Linked DNA regions of Homo sapiens: region 2 is linked to region 1. The links come from fine-mapping of genetic effects on gene expression. Tissue or cell type: whole blood. Region 1 holds a variant in brackets; the other region holds the start of a gene. All regions are shown on one strand. Distances are between the middles of the regions.

The links. PIP is the estimated chance that this variant, and not a neighbour inherited with it, causes the effect.
Region 2: TRIM38 starts here. The variant in region 1 is fine-mapped to the expression of TRIM38 in whole blood (INTERVAL, PIP 0.93).

Annotation. Positions count from the first base shown.
Region 1 is chr6:26,005,495-26,013,602 of GRCh38, forward strand. No RefSeq gene overlaps it. Among named protein-coding and RNA genes, the nearest start is that of H1-1, 8.2 kb to the right of the region's middle. The variant G/C (reference allele first, on the strand shown) is at 3,632.
Region 2 is chr6:25,959,278-25,967,385 of GRCh38, forward strand. It overlaps TRIM38 (tripartite motif containing 38), which reads left to right and starts at 3,525. Exons shown (of 8, transcript NM_006355.5): 1 at 3,525-3,578; 2 at 3,772-4,005; 3 at 7,058-7,656. The coding sequence starts at 7,246.

The sequences.
Region 1 (8,108 bases):
TATGAAGGGCATATAATGAAGGGATATCTACAAAGTTGTGACAGGGCTAATGGGAAGAACAGGGGATATGAGGCAGCCCAAGATCAGCAACAGTAGTGATCCAGTGTCACCCTGTGCTGGTTATGAAGATTTAGTCTCTTCTATCTTTTCCAATACCGCTTTGCTAGCCACCTCCCCAAACCCTACCAATAGAAAGCACTGGAGGAAGACTAGAGGGCTGGAAGGATGTGAAAAGATTTCCCACTTTGTTTGTTGACATCCTCACAGAATGGGTTCTTCAACCTGGCAGTGGCAGTTGAATCCAGTAACAGCAGTTGGCTTCAGTTTGGAGATCTTCCATGCTCCTAAAATCAGCCTCATCATGCCTCTATCTACAGACATATCATCATCAGTGGTCCAGCATACACTCCTCAGAGGTCCCAGTTCTGGGGATCTCTTCAAAGAATCTTTTCCTTGTTCTCCTAAACCTGGAGGTGGTAGTTGCTTTCTGTCATTACTATCTCTGATACGTTTGTCCACTTTTCCATTTTCAGTCCTCTTATAACTAGTTAACAACCATTCCCATAAAATTCTTTGTTCAATTTCAGTGCAATTTCTAGCTCCCAGTTATACCCTGACAGACACACCTTTAAATCTGAAGAGGCAATGGGAGGGAACCTGTAACCAGAGCTAGGCCAGAGCTGGGACTGTGGAGGAAGAGCTGCCCACCAAGCAGGGGGGTGATGCAGGGAATAAGTACACTAACCTCTCTCTCCTTTGCCATCTACATTCCTGCTGGGCTGATCACTGGCCAAATCCAGCTGTTGCAAGAGGGCAGGGCTGCCCAGCTAATGCTATCTGTAGAAGCTGGGCTTCTGGGGCACAGAGCAAGTCAGAGACAGGCAGAACAGGGATGTGGGTTTGGACCAAACACTGAATAAACCAGATCAAGGATTCTTCTATCAAGACAAGTTTATATACTTGCAGCTTGATCCCATTGTTTCCCTTAGATAACTGTGCACTTGTTTTTGTCTGCCCTCTTTCCTGTGTCTACACTCTTCCTGTCTTATTCTATTTACACATAGCTCAGTCTTTTCCAATTAAAAAAAAAAAAAAAAAGCTTTCCCTCTCCCAAATCTCCATGCAGCTGCTGACTTCTCTCTTCCAAAGCCACACTGTGGGAGAGTCAGTTACACCTCCTGACCTCTGACAGGTGCAACACACTATAGTGAGGCTTCTGCCCTTGGTATTCCTCTGGCTCCATTATTTACAAGGTCACTAATGACTTCCTATTTCTAAATCCAGAGTGCCTTTTTAGTTATCTTCCTTGCCTTCTTGGCATCTCTAGATAACAATACTTGTCTCATTCTAACTTTTGTCTCTCCTTACAGCTCTTTCATTCATAATTCATTGTTATTCAGTTGGAGCCTTGATGGTGTTAGGGAGAAGCAGCATTCTGTAGTCAAAGTGTTAAGCCTCAGTTTATTAGCATGCCTATATCTTGGGGCTGGGACCGTCACAAGTGTTTATAATGATACAACTCCTCCTCCTCCTCCTTCTCCTCCTCCTCTTCCTCAAGTGTTTATAATGATACAACTCCTCCTCCTCCTTCTCCTCCTCCTCTTCCTCAAGTGTTTATAATGATACAACTCCTCCTCCTCCTCCTTCTCCTCCTCTTCCTCAAGTATTTATAATGATACAACTCCTCTTCCTCCTTCTCCTCCTCCTCAGACCTTTGCTCCTTTCCTGGCTGCACCATTTCCAATTTATTTTCATGAAGCTCTGATCCCTGTTGACTAATTTTCTTCCCTTAAGTGAGACAGAAAGCCTAGATGAGGCTGCAGTGGGAAGAATTACCTTCTCCCAGCTGGGATAAGACTCTGGCAAAATGTTTTCCCCTTGAGAGTAGGCCTTTGTTTTGAAGAAGGTTCTGGGGTGTATTTCATAATAATTCTTCTCTCCCTGCCAAAGCCACAAGAGGATCCTTCTCAGATCTTCACTGCAGGAACCTGGTGGGCTTTCTGATGCCCACAAAAGTGTGGGAGCTTCTCACTCTCATGGGCATTCACAGTTGGCCTCCAGCTTTTTGTCAGAGTTACCAATTTAAATGTTCTCAAATGTGATACTGTCTCAACTTCCAGGACATCACACACTCATGATTTTCTACTATCCTGACATTTGCAGTCTTTTTAGCAGATCTCCCTCCCTCTCCCTGCACCATGGGTATTGGTCATCTCAGGATCTGTCCCAGGCTTTCTACTCTTCATGCCCTTTGAGACAACACATGATCTGACCTGCCCTTTCAGGAAGAAATGTTCTGTCTACCTACTTGCTCCAGTTAAAAACCCTAGTGTCATCTTTGACCCTTCTCATCCCTACATCTAATCTGTTGATTCTACCTCCTAATTTTCTCTCAAACGCATCTATTTTTCTTCAATTTCAGTGCTACTCTCTTGCTCTAATTGTACATCATCTTTTTTAGAATTACTGTGACATTTTCTTGCCTCCAGTTCTGCCTCAGTCCATCCACTTCACAGCTAAATTTTGGATGTACACTTTTGAACTATTACTGTAGCAAAAGTAATATGTAATAACTGTAATGCAGAAATATAAAATATGCAATATAAAAGAAATACATGCATAAATGATCCCAACACTAAGGAAACAATATTGATCAATAATTAAATAATTGGTGGATAGTGAATGACAACATAGAGCAAAGTGTTCAGTAGGTTTTAAAAGCTGTGGGTTCAATAAATGCTCATGAAGCTTGTTCAGGGGCTTGCAAAATATGTAATTTGAATTTTTAAAGAAAAGGAATTTCAGATAAGAAAAAACATACATAACATGAAACAATACTTGTGGTGGTTTCAGGGAGGTCATGTTCTCACATTCAGGTGCCAAGGCCACCGTACATCCGGACACTGAGGCCACGGACTTGGTCTGCAACCTCCATGACAGCCTTGTAGATTTGAAACCGAACTCCAAGGAGCAGTTGTGCTGTGAGTTCCAGAGTTTGGGGACAGAGGAAACACCATTCTTTGGAAGTCTAACTTCCTTAAGAGGTGTCCCTTAGACATCTAGTGTCCGGTGTTATGGAGGTCCTTGTGCTCTGAGGAAGGAGCCCCTTGTTGATTGATGGAGCAAAATTTTTTTAAACAAGGAACTGTACCCGTATCTGGGCATGAAGCCAGAGAAATCCCTGAGGGCAGGGCCAAGGCTCTCAAAGATTTTCAGGGAGATTCCCAGCCTTTTTAAGTCTCGCCTATTCTTTTTTTTTTCTCTAACTGGCCATTTTGTATATATGGAGGTTATTGATTTTTTTGCTTTTATATCCTGATATTTTAATAACTGTTCATTTTTTAGTTATTTGAATTATCTACATTGATTATTTGAATGTTCTTTTTTTTGTTTTTTTGAGACGAAGTCTCGCTCTGTCGCCCAGGGTGGGGTGCAGTGACAGGAACTTGGCTCACTGCAACCTCTGCCTCCTGGGTTCAAGCGATTCTCCTGCCTCAGTCTCCTGATTAGCTGGGATTACAGGTGCCCGCCACCACACCCAGCTAATTTTTGTATTTTTACTAGAGATGAGGTTTCACCATGTTGGCCAGTCTGGTCTCAAACTCCTGACCTCAGGTGATCCACCCACATC[G/C]GCCTCCCAAAGTGCTGGTATTACAGACATGAGCTATTGCACTTGGGCTTTGAATTTTCTACGTATCTGACTTCTACGAAGAAAACTATAATGTATTACTCAGATAAATTAAACAGGAAAACTAAATAATGGAGGAGTATATTTACAGTTGAAGCGGTCAATATTTTAAAGGTATTAATTGTCCCCAAACTGATCTACAAAACCATTGTAATCCTAATCAGATTCCCAATAAGCTTTATTATAGAAATTGACAAACAGGGTTCAAATTTAATACACAAATCCAAGGGCCCAAAATAAACAAATCTGTTGCTTTATTAAATATCAAAACTGATAAAATGACAATAATCAGGGCAGTGTTGTCCAAAAATAGACAAACGAATGGAACAGGCTCAAACAAATATGGACATTGATTTACATCTAAAGTGGCACCATACAACAATGGTGAAAGGACTCTTGTAAATAAATGGCATGGGACAATTGTATAGCCTTTTAAACAGAAAAAGAACAAAAAGGAAAAAAAAAGAAACTTGACCCCCTACTTCACACTATACACAAAAAACAATTCCAGGGGAACTAACATGAAAAGCAAAATAAAGTTAAACATGAAAAGCAAAATAAAGTATATGGTAAAAAATTTATCTTACCCAAAAAGAGGTCTAGCCTTTGCCCTCAGCTACTGGGAGATGAATTTTAGACCCTTGAAATGTTCTCACTGATAAGTGTGTCTTTGTTTACCTGGAGGTTTTGACCACCACACAGTCAACAATGTGATTTATAATAGGAACTTTGAGCCACACAGTATCAGCTCTACCTGTGGAGGTAGACTAAAAGATCGGCCATGTGAGCAGTCAACCATGGCAGGCCATTAAAACTGCACACTGAGGCTCGGGTGAAATACAGTTCTCTTGTATACGGTTTCTACATGGTTTTAGTTCCTGTGGTCTACTGCAGTCCAAAAATAATAAACGGTAAATTTCAGAAATAAACATTCACCTAACTTTTATACAGTATATTCTTAACAATTATTCTAATTTATTGTTATTAATCTCTTACTGTGCCTAATTTATAAATTAAGCCTTATCATAGCTGTGTCTGTATAGGAAAAAACAGCTATATAGAGTTCAGTACTATCCATGGTTTCAGACATCCACTGGAGGTCCTGGAACATATGTTTTGTGCATAAGTGGGGACTGCTCTGTACGTCATGTGTATTGTCACACATTAATGCTGGGAAAGTAATACTGTTCATATTACTGGGAGAGGACAACTGGAAGCTCATATTTGGAACTTGCCTGGATTGTGCCTATATTAGTTTCCTAGGGCTGCTGTAACAAAGAGCTAGAAGCTAGGGTGGCTTAAAACAACAAATATATTCTCTTGTAGTTCTGGAAGCTAGAAATCTGACATGAAGGTATCATTAGATCTATGCTTCCACTGAAGCCTGTAGGAAAATCCTTCCTTGACTCTTCCTAGCTTCTCGTACTTGCTGGCAACCTTTGACATTCCTTGACCTGCAGCTGCATAACCTCAGTCTCTGCCTGTGTGTGTCTGTCTTCACGTGACCACCTTAGAAGAATACTAGTTCTATTAAAAAATATATATATACTACTTCTTCTAAGTCACCAGCCCATCATACTGTACTATAACCTCATCTTAACTAATTATATCTGCAACTATCCTATTTCCAAATAAGGCCACAATTCTGAGGTACTGGGAGTTGGGACTTTAAACATATCTTCTGGGGGCAAGGGAGATCTGCATACAATTCGATCCATAATACTGCCTTGTGTGTTTCTTTTCTCAGCTGATTTTAATCTTTATTCCTTGAGTTGTTTCCCCTTTTCAACTATTACAAACAATGAATTTTGCTGTGTATGTGTCTTGGTATATATGTGCACACATATCTGCTGTTTGTATACCTCAGAGTGAAATTGTTGGGTCAAATGCTAAAATCTTTTTAAAAGTAGTTGTATAATTTTACATTGCATTGGAATGACATAATAAGCTATATATCCTATAATAAATTGTAACCATGAGGCTAACAGCTTCAGCAAGTTCTGTGAGTCCTTTTAGCAAATTACTAACCTAAGGTTGATTGGGAACCACAGACCTCCCAACTTATAATTGGTGTTAGAAGTGAGGGTAGTCTTGAGAACTAATTTCACAAGAAGGTATTATAAAATAAGATCTTCATGACCTTGAAATAGAAAATGATTTTTTAAATAAGATACAAAAAAGGTTGTGCATAAAAGGGCAGTGTGCTTAATTTGAGTACACTAAATTAATGACTTTAATGCATCATGAGATATCATTGGCTGGGTGCAGTGGTGGCTCACACCTCTAGTCCCAACACTTTGGGAGGCCAAGGTTGATGGATTGCTTGAGCTCAGGAGTTTGAGACCAACTTGGGCAACAGCACCATCTCTACAAAAAAATACAAAGATTAGCTGGGCATGGTGGCCTGCACATGTAGTCCCACCTACTAAGGAGGATAAGATGGGAGGATCGCTTGATCCTGGGAGGTGGAGGCTGCAGTGAGCTGTGATTGTGCCACTGCACTCCAGCCTCTGACAGAGTGAAGACAAGTTACAGAGGAAATACCTGCAACACATAAAATGGATAAAGGGTTCGTGAGCAAAATTTAAAAACTTAAAACAGAAAAGACAGGCCAGGTTTGGTGGCTCACACCTGTAATCTCAGCATTTTGGGAGGCCGAGGCAGGTGGATCACCTGAGGTCAGGAGTTTGAGACCAGCCTGGCCAACATGGTGAAACCCCGTCTCTATCAAAAATACAAAAATTAGCAGGGCGCGGTGGTATGCACCTGTAGTCCCAGCTACTTGGGAGGAGGAGAATTTCTTGAACCCAGGAGGTGGAGGTTGCAGTGAGCTGAGACAGCGCCACTGCACTCCAACCCGGGTGACACAGCAAGAGTCCACCTCAAAAAAAAAGAAAGGACAAAAAGGACAAAAAGACAGCTATCTTAAACCAACAAGAAAAAACACAATCTTTTTGGCCTAAATTGTGTTCCCCCAAAATTGATGTTGAAACTCTAACACCCAATGTGCCTATATTTGGAGATAGGGATTTTGGGACTTTATGGAGATATTTAAGGTTAAATGAGGTCATAAGAGTAGGCCAGTAGTCTGATAGATCTGGTGTCCTTATAAGAAAAGGAAGAGACATGAGGTCATTTTATGGGCATATGAAGAGGCCACATGAGGACACAAAAGGCGACTGCTGTGGTTTGAATATGAGATGACATCTCACATCTGCCATAACAGTAAGAAGGCCCTTGCCAGAGGTGGGCCCCTCGACCATAGGCTTTATAGCCACCAGAATTGTAAGAAATAAATCTGTATTCTTTATAAATTATTTGGTCTCTGGTATTCTGTTCAGCACCAAACAATCTAAGACAGCAACTATCTTCAGGTCAATAAGAGAGCCCTCACTAGAAACTGAATCTCTTGGCACCTCAATTTAGGATTTCTGGCCTGGCCTTTAGAACTGTGAGGTAATAAACTCCTTTTGTTCAAGCTACCTAGTCTAGTATTTTTGTTATGGCAGCCCAAGTCGACTGATATACAATCCAATTAAGAAAAAATGGGCAAAAGATGTAAAATAAAACCATAATGAGATAATACTGCACATCTGCCACAATGGATAACATCTTCAAAAGATTAACAATTTTAATTGGAAAAAAATATTGGGAAGTATATGGAAGAACAGGAATTCCCAGCTAGATTCCATCAACATTAGGTTTGTGAGGTTCATCCATGCTGTTTATAACTGTGGTTTTAATTTTCATTTCATCGCATGTAAACCTAATATCACCACTTTCAAAAAGAGTTTAGCATTTGACCCAACAATTCCTCTCCTAGGTATACAAACAAAATATGTATTCCTATATATACCAAGACACATACACAGGAATATTCACGGTATTGTTTATATTAGCTGAAAAAGGGAAGCAAATATGCATCAACAGTAGACACCTAAATTGTTGCACTCATAACATGGAATATTACATAACAATAAAAATGAATTAAAGTTATACACAGCAACACAGATGAATCTATTCAAACCTAATGTTCTGGAGTGAAATATGTCAGGTACATAGGATTACATTTGTTTTATTTCCATTTTATATGTTTCAAAAACAGGCATACTAAATTACAGCATTGGAAATCAAAATAGGGGTTATGTTTAGGGCAGATGGAGTGATAATGTGACTGGAAGCAAGCATCAGGCGGCTCTGGGAGGGTTGGCTGATTTTCTGTTTTTTTACTTGTGTGGCAATTATTATGGTGTTCACTTTGTGTTCATTTATTGAGCTTTGCATTTTTGTTTTGCTGTGGTTTTCTGTTTATATGTTATGCTTCTCAGTTTAAAGAATGTTGAAATCTTCTAATACGAAATTTTTTTTCAATGAGAAGGATTTTAAGCATCCAGAATCAATTTTAAAATCTCCAATTTGC
Region 2 (8,108 bases), 46 kb before region 1:
ATTCTATGGTTCTCCCTGTGTACATGTTAATAAATTTGTGAGTTGATTTTTCAGCAAAGTTTCCCCAGAAGCCAAAGGGGAAATTTCCCTTGGCCCCTCCACTCTCTTTTCCCAGCTCTTCTTTTACTTTCGTTTTTATTTCCTCAGCCCAGTAGGTCACAGCCTTCTTTTTATTTCTTCTCTGTCCAAACCATCAGTATATCCTACAGGTGGGAGAGAAGCAGCTCTCTGGGAAACCAGTAAGCACCATGAGTTCTGATACTTTCTAGTACCATTTGACATATTAACATCCCCGCCACCCCTAATATGTATGGACACGCACACACATACCACATCACATGCATCACACTAACACAAACTATGTATCACATACCACACACAGCACACACAGTACCACATACCCCACACAACACCCACACCACACTACGTGCATCATGCACATATGTGCACACACCTCTTGTGATGTGTGTTTAGTGCAATTCAGAAAGTTACTCTTTGATTTAATGCACATCACTATGCTTAGAAATATTCTAGTTACTGGGATTCATCAGTGAACAATATTGAAAAAAATCCATCCCTTTGCATTCTCATGAGGGAAGCAAACACTAAACAAAATAAATTAGTAAAATATTCAGTGATAAGTGCCATGGGAACAAAATAGATTTGAAAATGTTTGGGAGGGAGAGAGGGGTACACTTGCTAACAAGTGGTCAGGATAGGGTTAGTTGAGAGGCAAAATCTGAAGGAGTTGAGGAAAGGCATTCTAGGAATAGCTGAGTGCTGACTCTTGCCCACAGTGGGAACACACAGTACAGAGCTTCTGAAGGAGACTCTAGTGACCTACTTCCCATTGTGAGTCTTTGGACTCCTATATCCCATAATCACAGGATCAAGCCTAACTTTACATATTAGAGATAATGCATTCCTCCTTGGGGATAGTTCAGGTTGATTTCTCCCTAGGCCTGCCTTTGTCAACATATTCCTGAAGTCTCATCTGCACCCCATCTCTGCTTCTAATATTGGCCACTCTGTGCATGAACCAGCCCCTCCTTCCTGCAATGGGAAACAGGTGTGAGATGGGACAGCTGTCACAATCCGTTTTGCTTTTGTCTTGCTGTTATTATTGGTAATGGTAGTTTGTTTCCTTTTTAGCATTCACTAGCTTCCTTTTCCTGATCCTTTGATAGTGTTACCAGAAAGGGGGTCCCAACCCAGACCCTAAGAGAAGGTTCTTAGATCTCGTGTGAGAAAGAATTTGGGGCAAGTCTACACAGTAAAGTGAAAGCAAGAAAGTAAAGGAATAAAAGAACGGCTACTCTACAGGCAGAGCATCAGCTTCTGGACTAAGGATACTGATATGGTTTGGCTGTGTCCCCACCTAACTCTCATCTTAAATTCCCACATATTGTGGGAGGGACCTGGTGGGAGGTAATTGAATCATGGGGGCAGGTCTTTCCCTGAGTAATTTATACTGCTGTTCTCATGATAGTCAATAAGTTTCATGAGACCTGATGGTTTTATAGAAAGGAATTTCCCTGCACAAGCTCTTTGCCTGCTGCCATCCATGTAAGACCTGACTTGCTCCTCCTTGCCTTCTGCTGTGGTTGTGAGGTCTCCCCAGACACGTGGGACTGTAAGAGCATGAAACATTTTTTCCTGGTATAAATTACTCAGTCTCAGGTATGTCTGGATCAGCAGTGTGAAAATGGACTAATACAGATACTTACAGTTATTTCTTGATTATGTACTAAACAAGGAGTGGATTATTCATATGTTTTCTGGGAAAGATGTGGGCAATTCCCAGAACCAAGCGTTCCTCCCCTTTTTAGACTATATAGGGTAGCTTCCTGACATCGCCATGGTATTTATAAACCACTATGGAGCTGGTGGGAATGCCTTCTAACTTGCTAACACATTATAATTCGTGTATAATGAGCAATGAGAATGACTAGAGGCCACTCTTGTTGCCATCTTGATTTTGGTGGGTTTTGGTCAGCTTCTTTACTGCAACCTGTTTTATCAGCAAGATCTTTATGACCTGTGTCTTGTGCCAACTGCCTATTTCATCCTGTGACTTACAATGCCTAACTTCCTGGGAATGCAGCCCAGTAGGTCTCAGCCTTATTTTACCTAGCCCCCATTCAAAATGGAGTCATTCTGGTTTGAACACCTCTGACAATAGGACAGATCTGGAATGAGCCATGCCTGGGTACAGAGTCACATCCACAACAATGAAAGTTGTAGATATCTGCAAGGACTCATCGTGGGACCAAGGATTCAGGGGCTCATTCTTTCTCCTCTCTCTGTGTGCTGGTTGCCTCAGGAGTAGAATGTCCCATGCTATGCATGGGGTCTGCAACCATCATGCCAGGGCATGATGAATCGTAGGTGGCAAAACAACAGAAGGCTCTGTGAGCACCCAGGAGGGTGCAGTGCTGAAGAGTCTTCTGCTTGGTATAGGAAGAAAGGAACGTGTTTCCCAATCTTGCCTTTATTTTGAGTAGTTGGACCAGAGGGATTGCAGCTGGGCCAAACTCCATGTTCCATTGGCTATCAGGGTCAGCAGGCAGGCCAGGGGCCCAGACAGGCCAGTGGCTCCCAGAATTCAAGTTTAATTTCTCCTCCCACCTGTGTCCTGAGCTCCCCTTACTGGTTCCCTTGGACCACTGCATCTACTTAAGCCAGCATTTATTATGTTGTTATCATAAATGCCTCTTACACCTGAGACTTATAAATGTGACAAGCTCTTATTGTGAGATAGTAATCCATCTTTTTTCCCCATGAAATAATAATTCTAACGGGTGGTGATAGTACTTTTCCTTTCATTTTGAAGTGGAGAAGCTGGAGCTAAGTCATTAAGGACTTGACCCTGGACCCCACAGCCTTTTCTCCACAAAGCACAAAGCAGAGTGATGGTCCCAGGGATCCCACACAGCTCTAAGCTGGGGGCACTCACTGCTGGGCCACTAGTGACTCCCATTTTCTATCCTGGCTGACCCTCGCTATTGAAGAAGATCTGAGTCCTGCAGAAGGACAGCAAGGAGAAAAACAAGACACAGAACGGGACAGAGAAGAATAGAAAGCTGACTCAGATGAATTTTGTGATGCCAATGAGTCCTACTGCTGTTACCACCCCTTTTTCCACCACACCCTTCAGAGCAGTTATAGAACCACAAGCAACCCATAAATAGCAAAAGAAGTAACATCAGCTAGGAAGGCTTAAGGACTCCCAAGGGAGTTGGTGGCAAAAGTAGAAAGATCTCAAATCAGAGTCTGTGAACTGAACCTCTGCAGGCTTCCTGTTTTTAGATACTCTGTGTTGGGGTCACATGATAGTTTACAGGGTTATTAATTGGTTCCTTCTTTTTATTGCTGTAAAAGAAGGATATTTTCTTCCTACGTTTCCCCCTCCTTTACCGGAGAGGCGGAGTGCAAATGATATGAACAACGTCACTAGTTTTCTCCTAAATCTTATGAGCCCCGCCTCCCACAGTAGTTTCACTTCTCAGTTTAATCCGGTCTGAGTTAACTTCCTGACCCAGGAAGTGGCAGCAACAGAGGGGACTAGCAGCGAATATGTAAGTGTCTGAGCAGTGAAGGTTACGGAAAAGGTCCAGGCTAAGGTTTTCTCAGTGGATATGTGAGTGTGTACTGATGGCAAGTGGGGTGGGGAATATATTTCGTGACAGCAGGGCCCCTCCAACTCTGAAAATGGTCAGGACTTTCTTTGTTTTACAGCTCTCACCTCTTTCCTGCTCTTTCTTTCACCAGACTTTACACCAAATCTCAGAAGATTCAGAACTTAGATGAGTGGGGCCCAGGACAGGAACCCTGGAGCCTTGGAAGGAGGGGAGCCCCATCTCCCCAGAAGAGCAGTGACCCCAGCAGAGAGGGGCCTGGTGTATCACTGGAGGAAATAGCCTGCCAAGGAATACACGTCTTCAGAAGAAATTCTGTGTGGCTTCAAGAGACTGATCAAATTGTGAGAGGAAAACAGCCTACCCGGTAATTGTAGTTAAATTACTGTTTTTTATTCTAGGCACTCTTCAAACTTCCTCCTGACTCTGCCCCTGTCCTAGAGGAGCTCCCAGGAGTAGGGGTGTGGGGGCGGGCGGGGGGGAGGGATCGGGGGTACAGGGAGAGCCCAGCTAGGTTCTCAGAAGAGGCAGGCTTTTTCGCTCCTGGTCACTCCTCTGTTGCCTATCCCTGGCCTCCCCCATCTTCTTTCTGCCTTCCCTACCTCCTTGGGTCTGCAAACTCTTTATGTTGCAATCACTCTGAACATGTCTCTTGAGATAGGTCCTGTCCTGGAGAAGAGATAGTAAAAGTAAACTCCCCAGTTCTGCAGGAGCTCTGATCCCATAGAAATAACTGCTCCTCAGGAGCAAACCCTCTGCTCTGCAGCCTTCTTTCCAATTCTTATTCCCTCAGTTTAGGGAGAGGGCACAAAAAGGATAAACCGGTTCTTCTGGTTGTTCTGGTTGCCTTGATTGCTTCCATTATCCTCCTGGTTGGGTCTCTAGCAAGACGTTATTAGCCAGGGAAGTCCCACTTAGGCACCCCTCTCTGCAGAAGAGGTATTCACTATTCTCCTTTCTCTTTCTTTTGCCTATTATACCTCTGCTCCTGAAAGCAAAAACAACAACAACAAAAACACAAACAAAAAACAACCGACCTTATTAACCAGTGTTGGTTGTTGTTCTTTGTGGGGGATGGGGGGGGTCGAGGTGGAGTCAAATTTTATTGTCATGATGGTGTAGGAGCCAAGGGAACACTTCCCCTTTGCCTTCTGAAGTTCACTGAAAAATCGACTCACAAAAGGCAGGCTAATTGGAGAAAAGGCATACAAATTTATTAACAAGTACATGGGCTAGAATCACAGAGTGATTACCCCCTCTGCCAATGGGGGTAGATACTTATATAGCCTTATTTATAAATACTTATGTATAAATACATAAATATAAATATGTATGCATATGTATGTATGTATAAATATGTATGTATACTGTATAAATATGTATGTATAACGTTTATACATGTATACATATTTATTTCAGAGGGGAAGGGTGATATCAGGAGAATATAGGTAATTCTTTGAGGGGCAGTAAATGATTACTAGGGAGAATAAATGAATATTTGGGAGGATGAATGAATGGAGGAACAGAGTTTAACTTGTAAATGGTTCTCTTTGGAAAATGAATGAGCCTGAGAGACAGACATTATTTTGTGAAAGTGTCTGATTAGGTCTGGTTACATTCTTAGTCCTCTTTTCTTCAGTACAAAATGAGATAATAGGGGTTGGAAGGAAAAACAATTGTTCTTCTTGTCTAGTGTGACTGGTCTTTATGTAGATAGGGGAAAAGTCTCTTCCAGCATCTGCTGATCTCTAAGGGCCTTTAATTCAAAATACTCATTATACCAGGGAGTCATATATTGGGGTGAAGCTCCCCATACTCCTTCAATGGAATCTGTCACAGATCACCCAATTGCATAAGTGTTACTACTAATTACAAAGAGTAATTCTGGTACCAATTATTCTTTTTTTTTTTTTTAAGACAGATTCTCGCTCTTTCACCCAGGCTGGAGTGCAGTGGTGTAATCTGGGCTCACTGCAACCTCCCCCTCCGGAGCTCAAGTCATTCTCCTTCCTCAGCCTCCTGAGCAGCTGGGATTACAGGTGTGCACCACCACATCTAGCTAACTTTTTGTATTTTTAGTAGAGATGAGGTTTTGCCATGTTGGTCAGGCTGGTCTCAAACTCCTGACCTCAGGTGATCTGCCCGCCTCGGCTTCCCAAAGTGCTAGGATTACAGGCGTGAGCCACCGTGCTGGCCTGGTAACAATTATTCTTGAAGTTAACTAGAATAGGAAAGAGTTTCACACTCCCTGAGTTCTCTCTTTTACAGCTTTTGTGAGGAAGCCTGCATTGCTTCTCCCAGCACTTGGTCCAAGGTAACTTTCTGTGATAACAGAATGTTGTATATTGAGGCTGTTATGTAGCCACTAGTCACATGCAACTATTAAGCAATCAAAATGTGGCAACTGGAACAGAAAAACTGAATTTTTTCATTTTAATTTTTATTAAGTTAAATTTAAATTCCTACTCATGATAGTGGCTACTGTATTAGCTATACAGCTAGATGTTTGTGTATCCTCTAAATTCCAATGCATTTCTTCTTTCTGGAGAGAAGACTTTAGCTGGACATGGTGGCACATACCTGTAGTCCCAGCCACTCTGCCAGGGTGAGGCAGGAGGATTGCTTAAACCCAGGAGGTCGAGGCTGCAGTGAGCTGTGGTCATGCCACTGCCCTCCACTACAGCCTGGGCAAGAGAGCGAGAACTTGTCTTATAAGAAAAGAAAAAGAGGCTGGGCACGGTGGCTCATGCCTGTAATCCTGGCACTTTGGGAGGCTGAGGCGGGTGGATCACAAGGTCAAGAGATCGAGCCAACCAACATGGTGAAACCCCATCTCTACTAAAAATACAAAAATTAGCTGGGCGTAGTGGTGCACACCTGTAGACCCAGCTACTACTCGGGAGGCTGAGGCAGGAGAATCGCTTGAACCCGGGAGGCGGAGGTGCAGTGAGCCGAGATAGCGTCACTGCACTCCAGCCTGGGTGACAGAGTGAGACTCCGTCTCATTAAAAAAAAAAAAAAAAGTTAGAAGACTGAGAAAAGAAAAATAATGAAATAATTTAGAGCAGTCTGAGCTATGTGAGGTATGCAAAATTTATCAGGACAAGTGAGGCAGGAGTATAGGTCTTCAGTTAAGACCCCATGTTTAAAAGCATTTTGTTCCTGACTGGCTGCCTCATCTATTACCTACATATTCCCGAGATTTGTAATACAAAGAACAATGTATAGCCAGTCAAAAGCTTATGCTATTTTAATGTAAATTCTTGGCAAACAACTTTAAAACTGCTTTAAAACTGCTTTTTTTCCTCTAAACAACCACTTGTAACTGCTTGCTAATGAGGGCAACTTGAAACTCTGCACTTGGGTTGCAGTTCTCAAACGTGGCCCAAACAACCTCAGCCTCAACTTCTTCCTTTTAGGTCCTCTTTTCTTCAATACAAAATGAGATAATAGGGGTTGGAAGGAAAACCTTCAAGACCTATGGAAGTCAGTTGCAGCCAGCTCATCACATAGAGGTGCAGGTGAGGTGTATTTTCATCACGGTGGAAAATTCTGGCTGCTTCATCTCCATCTCTAGAGCCAATATTGGAGCTTTTCAATAAAAGCTATGGCCTCAACCACCAGCACCAAGAAGATGATGGAGGAAGCCACCTGCTCCATCTGCCTGAGCCTGATGACGAACCCAGTAAGCATCAACTGTGGACACAGCTACTGCCACTTGTGTATAACAGACTTCTTTAAAAACCCAAGCCAAAAGCAACTGAGGCAGGAGACATTCTGCTGTCCCCAGTGTCGGGCTCCATTTCATATGGATAGCCTCCGACCCAACAAGCAGCTGGGAAGCCTCATTGAAGCCCTCAAAGAGACGGATCAAGAAATGTCATGTGAGGAACACGGAGAGCAGTTCCACCTGTTCTGCGAAGACGAGGGGCAGCTCATCTGCTGGCGCTGTGAGCGGGCACCACAGCACAAAGGGCACACCACAGCTCTTGTTGAAGACGTATGCCAGGGCTACAAGGTGAGTGTGTGGGCCCGGGAGCTTTGGTAAGTACCAAGTCTTATCCTGCTCCCCAGGAGCTGAGATGATTTAACTTGAAACCTAACATTATGACTTGGAAATACAGCTTTCATCATGTCATTCTTCTGAAAAATAGTTTATGATGATTTCTTGCTCAATTATCTAGACTGTCCATCCTGACCTTCAATGGGATGGTTGGACTCTTATCTCTATCCATTTGTGTTATGATGAATTTCTTTTTGCTTTAGAACAGGTTGTTCTCAAACCAAACACCCGCATTTTTTCTTGTTTCACACCATGAATATCATTTGAAAAACCACAATATGTAAAGCCATGCAGTAGGGCCTGAAAACAGGGAAGAAAGACCCATCACCTTTTAGGTATCTACAGTCTAGTAAAGAAAACAAACCATCAAAAATGTCTGCCTGGAGGTCCCTGGTTTTGGTGGTGGG